2 separate regions of the Homo sapiens genome follow, and region 2 is linked to region 1. The links come from fine-mapping of genetic effects on gene expression. Tissue or cell type: testis. Region 1 holds a variant in brackets; the other region holds the start of a gene. All regions are shown on one strand. Distances are between the middles of the regions. Region 1 overlaps TMEM233 (transmembrane protein 233). Region 2 holds the start of TMEM233 (transmembrane protein 233).

The links.
Region 2: it holds the start of TMEM233, and the variant in region 1 is fine-mapped to the expression of TMEM233 in testis (GTEx, PIP 0.91).

The regions. Positions count from the first base shown.
Region 1 is chr12:119,624,659-119,632,658 of GRCh38, forward strand. TMEM233 (transmembrane protein 233) reads left to right here. Exons shown (of 3, transcript NM_001136534.3): 2 at 5,078-5,214. The region is part of intron 1 of PRKAB1-AS1 (PRKAB1, TMEM233 and CCDC60 antisense RNA 1); the gene reads right to left. It also overlaps the pseudogene RN7SKP197. Among named protein-coding and RNA genes, the nearest start is that of TMEM233, 35 kb to the left of the region's middle. The variant GC/G (reference allele first, on the strand shown) is at 3,321.
Region 2 is chr12:119,589,006-119,597,531 of GRCh38, forward strand. TMEM233 (transmembrane protein 233) reads left to right here and starts at 4,769. Exons shown (of 3, transcript NM_001136534.3): 1 at 4,769-5,029. The coding sequence starts at 4,844. The region is part of intron 1 of PRKAB1-AS1 (PRKAB1, TMEM233 and CCDC60 antisense RNA 1); the gene reads right to left. RefSeq lists an enhancer at 4,757-5,330.

The DNA of each region.
Region 1 (8,000 bases):
ATTGTGGTTGTCAGGGGCTGGGGAGAGGATGAATGGGAGTGAGTATTTTACAGGTATGGAGTTTCCATTGGGGAAGATGAAAATTCCAGAGATAGATGGTGGGTCATGGTTGCACAGCAATGCGAATGTACATAATGCCACTAAACAGTATACTTAAAAATGATTAAAAGATTAAATTGTAGGCATATTTTACCACAACAAAAAAATCACACACAAAAAACATGTGCCACCTGGTCCCCACATCAGTTAAATCAGAATCTCTCCATGATAGAGCCTGGTTCTCTGTATTTTTTTTTTACTACCCAGGTGGTTCTAATGAACACCCAAGCTGGAGAACTCCAGAATTCGTGACTTAGAATTCAGGAACTCACCTTGCTGGAAGTCCCTAACATTGTTTTTAGTTCTCGCTCTCTCATTCACACAAGAGGCCTAAAAGCAATTCCTCTTCATTGTTGAGTCTTCCCACCTGTTGCTGACTAAGGTGGCCCAGATCCAAGAATTAATGGAAGGTTCCGGAAGCAGAAAGCTCTGTGGTATACTGGGTATTTCTCTGGCTTGTAATTGTCTGCATATGTCTAATCCCCCTTAATAGTCCAGGAAGAGGAGCAATTATTACTGAAGTGCTGTGATTTCAGAATCAAGGAAGAGGTTCTCAGTGAAATCTGTAATTTCACAGCACTGACGGAGTCCTTCTGTACATAACTTCTTCTTTTTTTTTTTTTTTCCTTTGATACAAGGTCTCACTCTGTCATCCAGGCTGGAGTGCAGTGGCACGATCATAGCTCACTGCAGCCTCAAACTCGTGGGCTCAGGTGATCCTGCCACCTCAGCCTCCTGAGAAACTTAGACTACAGGTGTGCGCATACATAACTTTTAAATAAATATTTCCAGTCTTCTTTGGGCTACAGCACAACTGTTGGGTGACTCTCAGCCATGGGATGATAAAGAGAGCTTATTTTTCAAAACTGTGTGTTCTTTTTATTTTGAAAAATTGCAGGCCTCAAATATAAGTGAGCAAATAACACAATGACCTATATAATCACCAAACTGCATCAATAGTTAACATTTTTTGCCATTTTTATTCTTATTTTGCTGAAAATTTAGGTACAGGTTGCAATAATATCAGTTCTAGATAATGCAGCCTGTATCTTCTGTAGAAAAAAAAATTCTCTTGTGTAACTAAAATACAAATATCACACTCAAGAAATTTAACATTATTATTATCTAACATTTACTCTACACTCGAATTTCCCCAATTATCCCGAAGATATCTGTAATTGCTACTTATTTATTAATCCTAGACACGATCAAGGATCATACATTGCATATAATTGTTAGGTTCATCTAGTTTTCTTTAATCTAGGAGAGTCTCCTGATGTGTTTGGGTGGGTGGGTGTGCATGTCTTTCACGACATTGACTTTTTAAAAATAATTTCAAGCCATTTGTCTTGCAGAAAGTTGCTCAAATAGAATTTACCCTATTATTCCCTCTTAATTAAAAAAAGCTAGGTATATTGAGAAAACTACATAGGGCCAGGTGCAGTGGCTCATGCCTGTAATCCCAACACTCTGAGAGGCCGAGGCAAGTGGATTGCTTGAGGCTGGAAGTTCGAGACCAGCCTGGCCAACATGGTGAAACTCTCTCTGCTAAAAATACAAAAATTTGCCACGCGTGGTGGCAGGCACCTTTAGTCTCAGCTACTCAGGAGGCTGAGGCGGGAGAATGGCTTGAACCCAGGAGGCAGAGGTTGCAGTGAGCTGAGATCACGTCACTGCACTCCAGCCTGGGAAACAAAGCAAGACTCCGTCTCCGGAAAAAAAAAAAAAAGAAGAAAAAGGAGGAGGAGGAGGAGGAGGAGGAGAAGGGAGAAGGGAGAAGGGAGAAGAGAAGAGAAGAGAAGAGAAGAGAAGAGAAGAGAAGAGAAGAGAAGAGAAGAGAAAAAAGAAAAGAAAAGAAAACTACACAGGTAAAATGTCCTTGCTAGGGTATTTTATCAGAAGGCACATGATGTCATTTGGTCAAGATTCTCTTATTATTAAAGGGAGAAGAACAGTATCTGGCCTTCATTTCAGCAGCAAGCAGTCTCTGAATACCTCTTCTTTGCCTGGCAGTGTACTATGTCCTGCAGACCTCAAAGATGCCCTCAAAAACTTCACATTCTGTGGGGAAACAGAAATATTCATGCACTCATTCAGTCAATAACATATTTCTTGAGCTCCAACAATGTGCCAGACACCACTCTAAGTACTAGAAACAAGGATGATATTTAAATATTTAACAAGTTTGGCATGAGCACAGAATCAGAGAAGATGCTCTGCTGAGCCCAATAACCCTTAAGTTGCTGGATCATGGGGAAACCGGGGAAAAGGCAGAGGAGCAAGTGGGATGGCTGGGATATTGGGGAAGGCGGACAAGCTTCAGAGTAGCTGCTATTTATCAGTGAGTACAGAGTATTTCAACATTTTAACAGCTGGGAATGACAGCCGTGGCTTGGGCATGGAGATGAAAAATTCAGCCAAGGTCCCTGACCTCATGGATTGACCTTCTAGTGCAGGAGTGGGCGAACTTCTTTGGTAAATGACCAAATAGTAAATATTTTTGGCCTTGCAGGCCCTACATTCTCTGGACAGAGAGGCAAAGTCCCAACTACTCAACTCTGTCTTTGTAGCACAAAAGTAGTGTGTCAGTCCATTTTGCACTGCTATAAAGAAATACCTAACACTGAATGATTTATAAAGAAAGGAGGTTTGTTTGGTGCATGGTTCTGCAGGCTAAACAAACATGGCGCCAGTATCTTCTTCCGGTGAGGACTCAGGAAGCCTTTACTCATTGTGGAAAGCAAGGGGAAAACAATTGTGTCATGTGGCAAGACAGAGAGAGAGAGCAAGAGAACGATGCCAGGCTCTTTTAAACAACCAGCTCACACATGAACTAACAGAGTGAGAACTCATTACTGCAGGGAGGGCACCAAGCCATTAATGAGGGTCTGCCCCCTGACCACAACATCTCCCACCAGGCCCCACCTCCAACATTGGGGATCACGTTTACACATGAGATTTGGAGGGAACAAACATCCAAACTGAGGTAGGAGGCGGGACTTGACTCCAGACCAGATTGAAGACCGGCTGAAACAGGGAAAAGGCACTCAAAGCTCCTCTCCATAAGACATGCTCACCAGTGCCATGACAGTTTACCATTGCTATGGCAACACCCAGAAGCTACCACCCCTTTCCAGGGCAATGACTCGGAAGTTGTCACCCCTTTTCAGGGCCACGACCCAGAAGTTACTACCCCTTATCTAAAAATTTCTTAACAACCT[GC/G]CCCTTAATTTACATATAGTTAAAAGTGAGTATAAATCTGACTGCAGCACTGCCCTGAGCTGCTGCTCTCAACACGCTACCTATGGGGTAGCCTTGCTCTGCAGGAGCAGTCATGGAGCTGTAACTCAACCAGGGCTCTAATGCTGCTGCCTCAATCAAGCTGCTTTTATATTTTATTTTTTTTATTTTTATTTTTGAGACGGAGTTTCACTCTTGTTGCCCAGGCTGGAGTGCAATGGCAAAAATCTCAGCTCACTGCAACCTCTGCCTCCCAGGTTCAAGCAATTCTCCTGCCTCAGCTTCCCGAGTAGCTGGGATTACAGGTGCCTGCCATCACACCCGGCTAATTTTTTGTATTTTCAGTAGAGACAGAGTTTTACCATGTTGGCCAGGATGGTCTTGAACTCCTGACCTCAGGTGATCCACCTGCCTCGACCTCCCAAAGTGCTGGGATTACAGGCGTGAGCCAGCACGCCCGGCCTAAAGCTGCTTTCTTCTACCACCAGCTCACTCTTTTTTTTTTTTTTTTTTTTTTTTTGAGATGGAGTCTTGCTCAGTCGCCCAGGCTGGAGTGCAGTGGCACGATCTTGGCTCACTGCAAGCTCCGCCTCCCAGATTCACGCCATTCTCTTGCCTCAGCCTCCCAAGTAGCTGGGACTATAGGCGCCCGCCACCACGCCCGGCTAATTTTTTTTTATTTTTAGTAGAGACGGGGTTTCACTGTGTTAGCCAGGATGGTCTTGATCTCCTGACCTCGTGATCTGCCCATCTCATCCTCCCAAAGTGCTGGGATTACAGGCATGAGCCACCACGCCCGGCCCACCAGCTCACTCTTAAATTCTTTCCTGAGAGAGGTCAAAAAACTTCCCAGGCTAGGCCCCAGTTCTGGGGCTCACCTGCCCTACAACAAAACTATATCAAATAGCCACAGACAGTAGTAAACAAATGAGTGTGACTATGTTCCAAATAAGCTTTATTTACAAAAACAGGCAGCAGGCTGGATTTGGCCCATGGGCCATGATTTGCAAATCCCATTCTAGTGAACAAGACAGACATACTCATTTGTGTTTTTATGCTACAAATACTTATCCAGCATCTTCTACATGGCAAGTATTGCACTGGACACTGGTATGCCGAACAAGACAGAAGGCCGGGCGTGGTGGCTCATGCCTGTAATCCCAGCACTCTGGGAGACCAAGGTGGATGGATTACTTGAGGTCAGGAGTTTGAGACCAGCCTGGCCAATGTGGTAAAACCCTGTCTCTACTAAAAATACAAAAATTAGCCAGGCGTGGTGGCGGGCACCTGTAATCCCAGCTACTTGGGAGGCTGAGGCAGGAGAATTGCTTGAACCCGGGAGGCGGAGGTTGCCATGAGCCAAGGTTGTGCCACTGCACTTCAGCCTGGGTGACAGAGTGAGACTCTGTCTCAAAAAAAAAAAGAAAAGATAAAAGACAGACGATGACCCCTGCCCACGTTGCACTTACATGCTGGTGGGAGAGACAAAATCTTGTTACGTAAATGCTAAGACAAAAGTCATCAGGAAATACAGAGGGGGCAGTTAACTCATCCTTAGAGTTTAGGGAAGGATTCCTGGAGGAGGGGATGACTGTGTTGTTTGCTTAGCAGGCTGTCAGTGAGATGAGCAAAGTCACCAGAGAGCTCTTGGAACCTTTTCATCAGGACAGCCTGAGGACCTCCATCCCTTTCCCTGTGGGTTATCTGTCATCACCAGCTCTTCCCTTCTGTCCCCCAGTCTCTGAACAGCTACAACGATGGAGACTACGAAGGAGCCAGGCGGCTTGGGCGGAATGCTAAGTGGGTAGCCATCGCCTCCATCATCATTGGCCTTCTCATCATCGGCATTTCTTGTGCAGTTCACTTCACAAGGAAGTAAGTAGGCTTTTTGAATCCCTCCCCATGTCAAACGCCCTTTCTCGAACGCCCGTTGGAATCTGTTAGGGTAGATTAGGTTATGCTCCAGTAACAACCCCAAGCCAAAGGGTTTTCATGTTTTCTTCTCAGAATAAATTTGTCCCAGTCCAGAGGGACATATCAACAGTGTGGATCTTCTAGTGCGGGAGTGGGTGAACTCCTTTGGTAAATGACCAAATAGTTAATATTTCTGGCCTTACAGGCCCTACATCCTCTGGACAGAGGGACATAGTCCCAACTACTCAACTCAGTCTTTGTAGCACAAAAGTAGTGTGTTAGTCCATTCTGCATTGCTATAAAGAAATACCTCAGACTGAGTGATTTATAAAAAAAGAAGGTTTGGATGCTTCTTTGGATCAGGTCAACAATATGGATCCATTACATGGATCATATAGGTCAGTGGAAGGTCTCTCCTCCACACAGTCATGCAGGGTCCCACGCTATACAAAGCTGCACCATCTTGTAGCTGCTCTATCTAGGACAGAAGTCAACAAACTTTGTCTGTAAAGGGCCAGATAGTAAATCTTTTAAGCCTTGCAGGCCATATGGTCCCGATCATGGTCTCTGGCACAGCTACTTAGCTCTGCCATTTTAGCACAAAAGCAGCCATAGACAATATAGAAATGAACAGGCGTGGCTGTGTTCCAATAAAACTTTATTTACAACAACAGGCATCTGTCTGTGGGCTGTAGTTTGCCAACTTCAGATCTAGAACATGAGGTGTCCTCAGGCAAAGGCGGGGGAGAGGAAGACTGGAGAATCCCACATGGGCTTTTTACTGCCTAGCGACAAATGTCGCTTAGGCTTACATTGACTGAAATCAGTCACGTAATCCCACCTAACTGTAAGAGGGTAGGAAATGTGGGAGAATAAATGGGATATTTAGGATTGCTATTTGCTCTGCCCTAGCACATCATCTGCTAAATAAACTCCTACTTGCATCAAACTAGCATAACTGTTTTAGTTTAAGGGCAGAAAGGTCACTACATATTTTTGGTATTGACAAGGAGCTCTCATCTCATGAAGAGATGGATGCTGCTGATGTGTTGTCCCTCTGGACTGGGACAAATTTATTCTGATTTCTCTAACCAGCTCAGATGGGCTCCATCTGCTAGACTCAATAACACTTTCCGTCAGAGGTTTGACAGACAGCAAGGTCATGTGATAGGCAACTCAGACCCAGAAATGACAAGTCCAGATCCATCTCTGTCTTGCTGTGTAATTTCTGGTAAGACAGATAAGAATGCTGAGAAATTCTTTCACTTTTCTGCCACAGCAGCATGGCTACTCCTATACCCTTGACCAAAGTCCTACACCCATCAAACTGAGAAGGTCAACCTCTTTCTCTTGGTTGACAAAGGAGGCTCACCCAGATGGGTGAGGGAGGAAGGAGACCTCTTTTGACATTCCAGATCAGCCAACCCAACCTTGGCAACCAAGACAGTAGCAGATGTCATGGTAGATCCACTTCCTATCAGAGAAGGCAGACCCAGGAACAACCAGTGGCAGCTGGGTAGAGGGGAAGATGTCAAAACAGAAGTGTCACAAAAGAAAATTAAATGGCTTTGGCCAAATAAAAGAGAAAAGGACACTCAAACATGAAAGGAAACTCAAGGTTTCTTGCCTGCAGGATGGCAAATTTGATGTTGGCCCATGAAGAGGAAGATGGTTGGAGAATACACGTGAATGAACCTGACTATATTCTTAAGAGAAGGTGTAAGGTGCTTGTGAACTTGTGAGCAGGGGAGCCACAGAGTGTGGGTTTAATGGTGCAGTTTTGGCACCAGACTGCCTGGACCCAGGTCCCAGTCACCACTTATTCACTGTGAGACCTTCAGCCAATTGTTTAACATTCCTGAACCTCAGTTTCCTCACCTGTAAAATGAGAATAATAGTAGTACCCATTTCATAAAGCTATTGTAAAGGTTAACTGGATGACCCACAGAATGTGTAGGTTGGTGTCTCTGTTCTTTAGTGGGTGCACAAAAATGTAAACCATTTATTAATCCCATTATTACTAATATTATCAATGTTACTGGGAAAGGACCTCAGAATTCAAGATGCCATTAAATAGAATTCAAGGCTTTATATTTATGAGCCAAACAAAGGACAATGTTCTAAGGGAATGAGACCAAGCCTTGGCTTGACTCCTGGGAACTTGGGAAAATGCATACTGCCTAGATTAGTGTTTGAGCTAAGTGGGTTATAATAATAGCAGCTGACACTAACATAGACCTTGACATATGCCAGGTACTGTTCTAAGCTCTTAACATTAATTAATCCTCATTGAGTCTTCACAGCAACCCAAAGAGGTAGATAGGTATTATTATCCCTATTTTGTAGATGAGGAAACCGAGACTCAGAGAGGTAAAGTGACTTGCCCAAAGCCTCACAGCTAGTTAGTGGAAAAGGTAGGATTTAAAACCAGGATAGTGTCGCTCTTCAGGCTGTGTTCTTAGCCAAACTCTGCACTGCCGCTAAGTCAATATGTTCCTGCTAGTACACCCAGTAACAAAGGCCAGTAAGTGGTACTTGCTTTGTGGCTAACTCCAGGATTGATTTACGGGGGAATGGTATGGTGAGGTTTCATCCTACAGAAATGTGTGATGAGTCAGGGCTAAGGTTCACAAAATCAAAGGAGTACAGGGGTCAGGGGAAGGACATACATGAGGTAGCCTGGTTATAGGACAATAGGAAGTGGTGGGGACCATGGTAATTTCAAAAGCACAGTTTAAAGGAAGCAG
Region 2 (8,526 bases), 35 kb before region 1:
GACCAGAAGGAAATAGTTCCTTCTGTTTGTAGTGGTTACTTGGATGACACCTCCTTCTGTTTATGTTTTTCTTCATTTTCTCAATTTTCTTAAATGAATACGTATTACTTTTACATTTGGAAATAAACTTGTTTCAAAGATCAAAAAGGCAAGTTGCTACACTAGAATCCAGAAAGCTACAGTAAGCCTTTCCCCTCTCCTAGGCTGGCTATTAGAAAGTTGCTTTCTCTTCTGTCTCATTTGAAAGAGGGTAGGTATTGCCACATTATTAAGCAATCAGCCAGTAGGGTTCATCCAAGAACAATAAACTGACCTCTCAAGAGAAAATTAGTGAAGCTCAGGAAATTAGAGCTGGAAACCCCCACTGAGTGATCTAATGCATCCCTCAAGAATCAGCACCATATACATTACATTTTCTGGTGTAGGCACTTTCTTTTCAATTTAATTTGAAAAGTTTCAAGTGATGGCAATTTCACTGCTACATCTTAGACCAGTCAACAAGCTATTAATCCATCTTCCCTGAGCAGAGCATAATAACTCCAATGAACTTCAGAGATATCCATTTAACTTTCTGGCCTGGACCTGCCAGCTGAACAAATATCTCAGACCGAGTTCAAATTCTGGCACCTCCTCTTAGCCAGAAGACTTTACACAAGTCCCTTTACCTATCTGTTCCTAGGTTTCCTCATTTGGGAAAAAGAAAACCTCATCACCTCCCTCAGAAAATTTGCTGTAGGAATTAAATGAGATGATACACACAGGGAATGCACTTAGTGCAACAGTGGTGCTCGGTCAATGTTTGGCGATTCTAGAGTGCTCGGCTCATGTTAAGCAGTTGTTTTCCTGGCAGAAGAAACAGTCCACAATGAGTCAACAATCCCTTCTTTTGGCTTTCCCTAGATGACACTAGTGGGTTACAGTGAACAATATAGTTCAAAACTTTGAAAAGCAAAATTTCATTTGGTACCCAAACCTTGGGCTACTGGCACCAACGAAATTAACTAGCCTCATCAACACCTGTGAAAAGAAGGGGGAAAAATAAAAATACAAATATTTTTAAAATAAATTAGGCTCAGATCACAAATATGGTTCAGAGAGCACTTTTTCATTGTGAATAAGAGCCAGAATTGGAAGCCCAGGAGGATGGGAAAAAGAAGACATGGAATGAAGAGTCACATTTGAGAATGAATCAATAGTTTGATGAATAATTCATGGAGAGGCTGAAGGAAAGAGAAGAAGAATGCTGCCAAGTACCTAACTTGGAGGACTAAATTCACAATTTATTCATTCAATGAATTATCTGTTGAGCACCTGCTAATGGCCAGGCACAGTTCTGGGTGTTTGGGATAACACAGCAAACAAAATGGAAAAAAATATCTGCCCTTGTGGAGCTTCCTTTCTAGTGGGAAAGACAGTAAATAAGAAGACAAATAAATAAAAAAGACCATGTCTGACATAGAAAATAAACAAGGTAATGGGATGGAGAATAAGAGGATGGGGTCCACTTTAGATATGATGGTCAGGGAAGGCCTCTGTCAGGCGGTAACATGTGAGTTAGTGGGTCCTGGAAGATGAGAAGGAACCAATAGTTAGAGAGGAGAGGAAGCATTCCAGGAGGAAAGAACAGTAGGTACAGAGACTTTGGGGTGGGAAAAGGTTAGGTATGTTAGAGAAACGGGGAAAAATGTCTATGTAATTGAAGTGCAGTAAGAAAGGAGAGAATTCTGGGCATGGTGGTGCATGCCTGTAATCCCAGCACTTTGGGAGGCTGAGGCGGGAGGATCGCTTGAGGCCAGGAGCTCGACGTTGCAGAGAGCTATGATTGCACAACTGCACTCCAGCCTGGGTGACAGAGCAAGGCTGTCTCTAAAAAATAAATAGTAAATAAATAAATAAATAAGAAAGGAGATACTTGGCAGAAGAGATTGGAAAAGTGAGCAGTGTTCATTGACCAAAGACCAAGCCTTGAGAAGCAAGTTCTTAGGGAAGACAATGAGTTCCTCTTTGACACATTGAGTTTGGGACACCTGAGAGGATTTCCAAGCTAAAGATCCTGGACTGTGTCCTAAGAATTAGAGACAGAACTGGGATCTGAGAAATTGCTCAGTTGCATCAGAATCACCAGGGAGTATTCTAAAAATACAGTTTTCTCAGGCATTAAAAGTACAGATTTCTGGCCAGGCGTGATGGCTCATGCCTATAATCCCAGCACTTTGGGAGGCCGAGGCAGGCAGATCACAGGGGCAGGTGATGGAGACCATCCTGGCTAACACGGTGAAACCCCGTCTCTACTAAAAATACAAAAAAATTAGCCAGGCGTGGTGGTGGGTGCCTGTAGTCCCAGCTACTCGGGAGACTGAGGCAGGAGAATGGCATGAACCTGGGAGGCAGAGCTTGCAGTGAGCCGAGATCGCACCACTGCACTCCAGCCTGGGTGACAGAGTGAGACTCCATCTCAAAAAAAAAAAAAAAAAAAGTACAGATTTCTGGGGTGCTACCTGAGAAATTCTAATCCAAGTAGGTCTTGATCAAAACCTGAAAATCATTTTTTTCAATACATCCAGGTAATTTTGGTCAATTCATTCAAGAAACATTTCTTGCATTCCTACTATGCACCAGGACAATTCTTAAGTGCTGGAAATATAGTTCTGAACAGGTTGGACAGGCTATAGTCTAGAGATAGAACAAACAGTGAACAAGTAAAGAAATAAATTACAATTGTGACACGCTACACACACAAAAAATAATAAACTGGCAAGAATAAAATAAGGATGGAGACCTACACTAGATAATCTACAAGAAGACCTCTCTTTGAGGAAGTGACTTGACCTGTCACCTGAGGAATAAGAAGGAGGAGCCTCCCAGCACTTTGGGAGGCCAAAGCGGGTGGATCATGAGGTCAGGAGTTCAAGACCAGCCTGGCCAAGATGGTGAAACCCTGTGTCTACTAAAAATACAAAAATTAGCTGGGCGTGGTGGCAGACACCTGTAATCCCAGCTACTCGGGAGGCTGAGGCAGAGAATTGCTTGAACCCAGGAGGTGGAGGTTGCAGTGAGCCGAGATCACACCACTGCACTCCAGCCTGGGTGACAGAGTGAGACTCCAACTCAAAGTAAAAAAAAAAAGAAGGAGGAGCCATGTGACAGCCAGGGAAAAACAGCCGAGGCAGAGGGAACAGCCAATGCAAAGACTTGGTTGAGAATTCAGTAGATGAATCTAATCTTTTAGTTACTCCCATTTTATTAATCCATCAAAATGAGAAAGAAGGCATGGCGGAGAATGTACTATTTCATCTTTGTGTGTTCACCCAGCAAGCTATACTAAGCACCTCCCTTGTACCAGGAACTGTGCCAGATGCTGACACAAAGATGAGCCAGATGACCCCTTCTCTCGGGGAGTGTGCAGTCCAATGAGGGAGGCAGATAACAAAATAAGTATGGCTCATGAGATAAGTGAGAATCTCCCAGGCAATCAGCTTATATTCTGAGAAAGCCAAGAAGATGATTAATAGTTTCAAGTATGATGATGTGAGCAATTGCTTTTGACACTGCATGATCAAATTATTTTCATTTCTTTGTGGTCCTGCAGCTCAGAATACCTGGATTTTTGGTGAAATATTAGCAAGGGATATCAAGTTTAGGATACTGTATAATGCACTATATGTTTCAGAATATAAGGAGAAATAGTATGCTAATAATAGCTAATATTTATTGAGCACATGGATTGACCTGGATAATGTACCATCTCATAGAAGAGTCACTACGACTTTATGAGGCAGGGACTATTATTTCCCCTTTTTCAGATGGAGAAATAGGGGCTTAGCAAGATGAAGGGGCTTTCCTGAAGTGACAATTTCCTAGTTCTGTCTGGATTCAAGCTTCAGTTCTGGTCCATACGGCCCTCTCATGAATAGCTTAGACACTGATACAATTGCTTTTCTCACACTAGTCCCCAAAGTGGATACCTTGTTCTTCTTCCCAGCCCACTCATCCATCTAGGTTGCCTAGGCCAGCCTGATCTACCTGCATTTCTCCCCAGGGGTCCTGCAGGTGGAAAAGTGGAAAGAAGAATTCCTTGTTTCCACACTGGGGAGGGCACCTGGACGGGCATGGACCGGGCAGTGCCCACTGACTGACTATACTGGACTCCAGTCTCTTGAGCCCCAAGTAGAATGTGGAAAGCTTTGAGGCCAAAGCTGGGCACCTGGTTCCCACCCCACCTGGGGGAGGGGGTCGGGGGGAGGAGAAATTCCTGGGGCTCAGTGTTCAAGGTCTGAGGCACAGGAGACAAATCAAATGCCCAGGCACCAGACAGTTAAGGTAAAACGTTGAAGTCAAGAGGAAGTAGTGAGTCTGTTGCCAACTGGATAGGGTTGGTCCTGTCCCATCTAAATGTATTAGAATTAAGTGGCTTTTAAAAATGAGCTGGTCATCTTCAGCCCACGGGCTGGCCAATTTGGAACTTAATGGGCCTTTGCGTCCTCCTTCCCTGAGCCTCCTTTTATTCCAGACTTCTCAGTGTGAGTCTGTGCGTCCCTCCGACGATCTCAGGGAGTGGGGTGCCTTCATCTGCCTGTTCCCTGTTCCTCAGGCTGACGCTCCCGCTGTCCTCCCCGCCTCCCCTCACTCCTTTTCTCCCTCCCTTCCTCCTTGTGGGGAGGCTCTTGGCCAGGGTCCCTGAGCCCGGGCGGGTGCTGGCAGAGGACGCAGAAGGGGTGAGGTCACGTCTCCCTTGAGCCCCGAGCCGCTGGCTTTTCAGAGCCTCGCCACAAGCCGGCGGCCAGAGCCCCAGACCACACAGACCGTGCGCTCCTCCGCCCTCCCGGCGCCGCCGGCCTCGCCCATGTCTCAGTACGCCCCTAGCCCGGACTTCAAGAGGGCTTTGGACAGCAGTCCCGAGGCCAACACTGAAGATGACAAGACCGAGGAGGACGTGCCCATGCCCAAGAACTACCTGTGGCTCACCATCGTCTCGTGTTTTTGCCCTGCGTACCCCATCAACATCGTGGCTTTGGTCTTTTCCATCATGGTGAGTGAATCACGGCCAGAGGCAGCCTGGGAGGAGAGACCCGGGCGGCTTTGAGCCCCTGCAGGGGAGTCCGCGCGCTCTCTGCGGCTCCCTTCCTCACGGCCCGGCCCGCGCTAGGTGTTCTTTGTCCTCGCACCTCCTCCTCACCTTTCTCGGGCTCTCAGAGCTCTCCCCGCAATCATCAGCACCTCCTCTGCACTCCTCGTGGTACTCAGAGCCCTGATCAAGCTTCCCCCAGGCTAGCTTTCCTCTTCTTTCCAGCTCCCAGGGTGCGTTTCCTCTCCAACCCGGGGAAGTTCTTCCGTGGACTTTGCTGACTCCTCTGACCTTCCTAGGCACTTGCCCGGGGCTTCTCAACCCTCTTTTCTAGAGCCCCAGTGCGCGCCACCCTAGCGAGCGCAGTAAGCTCATACCCCGAGCATGCAGGCTCTACGTTCCTTTCCCTGCCGCTCCGGGGGCTCCTGCTCTCCAGCGCCCAGGACTGTCTCTATCTCAGCCTGTGCTCCCTTCTCTCTTTGCTGCGCCCAAGGGCACCGCTTCCGCCACTCTCCGGGGGGTCCCCAGGCGATTCCTGATGCCCCCTCCTTGATCCCGTTTCCGCGCTTTGGCACGGCACGCTCTGTCCAGGCAACAGTTTCCTCTCGCTTCTTCCTACACCCAACTTCCTCTCCTTGCCTCCCTCCGGCGCCCCCTTTTTAACGCGCCCGAGGCTGGCTCACACCCACTACCTCTTTAGGCCTTTCTTAGGCTCCCCGTGTGCCCCCCTCACCAGCAAAGTGGGTGCGCCTCTCTTACTCTTTCTACCCAGCGCGTCGTAGTTCCTCCCCGTTTGCTGCGCACTGGCCCTAACCTCTCTTCTCTTGGTGTCCCCCAGAGCTCCCAGGCGCCCCTCCACCGCTCTGTCCTGCGCCCGGGGCTCTCCCGGGAATGAACTAGGGGATTCCACGCAACGTGCGGCTCCGCCCGCCCTCTGCGCTCAGACCTCCCGAGCTGCCCGCCTCTCTAGGAGTGGCCGCTGGGGCCTCTAGTCCGCCCTTCCGGAGCTCAGCTCCCTAGCCCTCTTCAACCCTGGTAGGAACACCCGAGCGAACCCCACCAGGAGGGCGACGAGCGCCTGCTAGGCCCTCGCCTTATTGACTGCAGCAGCTGGCCCGGGGGTGGCGGCGGGGTGAGGTTCGTACCGGCACTGTCCCGGGACAACCCTTGCAGTTGCGCTCCCTCCCCCACCGGCTCACCTCGCCTGCAGCTGGGCCACGGAACTCCCCGGCCACAGACGCAGAGCCCTGATTCAGCGCTGTGAAAATCGCTAGCCACCCGTCCCCCATCAAGTCCGCCCACACTTGCCCACGGGTGGTGGCACCATATTCGATTCGTGGGCACCTGCAAGGCTCCATTTGCACCCGTAACTTGCCCTTTCCCAAACCCGGTTTGTGGACAGCGTCTGCACCGATATGAAAGCGTGCAGCCGCTGAAGTTCAGACAAGTCTGTATTCAAATCCCAATTCTCCCACTTTCTAGCTGTGTGATCTCTGAAGTCACTGCATCTCTGAACCTCAGTCTCTTTGTAAAACCAGAATAATCATAGCCATGTTTCTTGGGGTTGTTGGGAGCATTCATGACATAAATAATTGTAAAGTGCTTAGAACAGTGACCAGCACGGTATCTTTACAAAATCTTTACTCAAATGTCACTTCATGAGGCCTTCTGTGATTACTGTTTAAAATCAGGACCCCCATCCACCCACCCCGCGCAAGCTCTGTTCTTCCTTCCCTGCTACCTTTTGACCAAATTACTTCTCTCCATCTGATATAGTATTTTAATTATTTGTATGTTTACAGTCTGTGTCCCTCTCATTAGAATATAAGCTCCATAAGGGCAGGAATATTTGTTGGTTCCTGTATCTTCAGCATCTAGAAGAAAATGTGGCACGTGGTAGATGCTTAATAAGTATCATGAAATGAATGCATGCATGAATGAATGGTGTGGATGAATCATTAACCTTTTTTTCCCATCCTGGAGGCCCGGAAGCCGTCGCATCCGGTTCCTTCCGACCAACCAGCCAATTTCCTCCCTTCCTTCCTCTCCCCATATATCCGGTCTTGACTTTTTTTGCCGAGAGTCTGGAAACAATGCTGCAGCCAAATTCTCCAGGCAGCAGCAGACTGTCTGGCTGGCACTGGTGCCCACATTCTATCCTGCTTTATTAATGAAGCAGCCAATTCACTCCTTTCCCAGTGCCACTTAGAAAACTGCCTGCAAAGGCTTTTTCCCTCATTGGTCTGAAATGAGCTGGCACTCCAGATGGTAGTGACAGGTCAGATATTAATGATGCTGCTTGGTATGCCCTGGGAGATGAGGTTTGCACATGCTTTGAATTGAAACTTCCTTTTCTAATCCCCTCTTCCCCATTCCCTCCCCCACTGGAGACAGTTTACTATGGACAAGTTTGTATCTTTTTTTTTTTTTTTTTTTTTTGAGACGGAGTCTTGCTCTGTCACCCAGGCTGGAGTGCAGTGGCACAATCTCGGCTCACTGCAACCTCCACCTCCCGGGTTCAAGCGATCCTTCCACCCCAGCCACCCCAACCAGCTGGGACTACAGACGCCGGCCACCACGCCCGACTAATTTTTGTATTTTTAGTAGAGACAGGGTTTGACCATGTTGCCCAGGCTGATCTCAAACTCCTGACCTCAAGTGATCTGCCCGCCTCAGCCTCCCAGAGTGCTGGGATTACATGGGTGAGCCACTGCGCCCGGCCAAGTTTTGTACCTTTTTAAAGCCTTGGTTTCTTCATCTATAAAATGGGAATGTGAAAGCTGTTTTAAGTTGAGCAAAACTGTTGTAAGGATGAAACAAAACAAAGCATTCTAGTTCTTAGCACTATGCTAGGTACATGCAATAATTGTCAGACAGATGTATAGATTTGGAACCTGGAGATATCATGTTACATATAAAAACAAACAGAAATTCTAAACAGTGTGTCCTACACCCTTCCTGTTGCACTGGAAGTCTTTTCCCATTGATATATAGTGCAGCTCTGGACTTGATCAGTTTCATCACAAGGACTCCAAAGGACAAAGGACAAAGAGGAAGAGGAAGGATGTGCAGTAGAAAGGTGGGAGACCAATTCTGCCAGGCGTTTGCTTCCCCTAGGGTCTCTTGTGATGTTCAGTCCTGGCAATTTTCAACTCTCACTTCTCTGTAATTTATGATTTGTGGTGCCCTCAATGATTTGGGGTGTTACTGGCATTTGGTGGAAAAAGCCGAAGTACTAATGTCTGCCATGCTAGGGGCTGTCCCCCAGTGAAGAATGGGCACATTCCCAATACCAAGACCATCCCAATGAAGAAGCACTGTAGGATGATGCAAATTGATATAAACATGGATGTGTGGAACATACTGACAAGGCTCAAAATAATTAGTTTCCAGAATGGTAAAAAAAAAAAGAGCCAACAATCTCAAAACAATCAATGCTTAAATATTTATTACACCAAGCC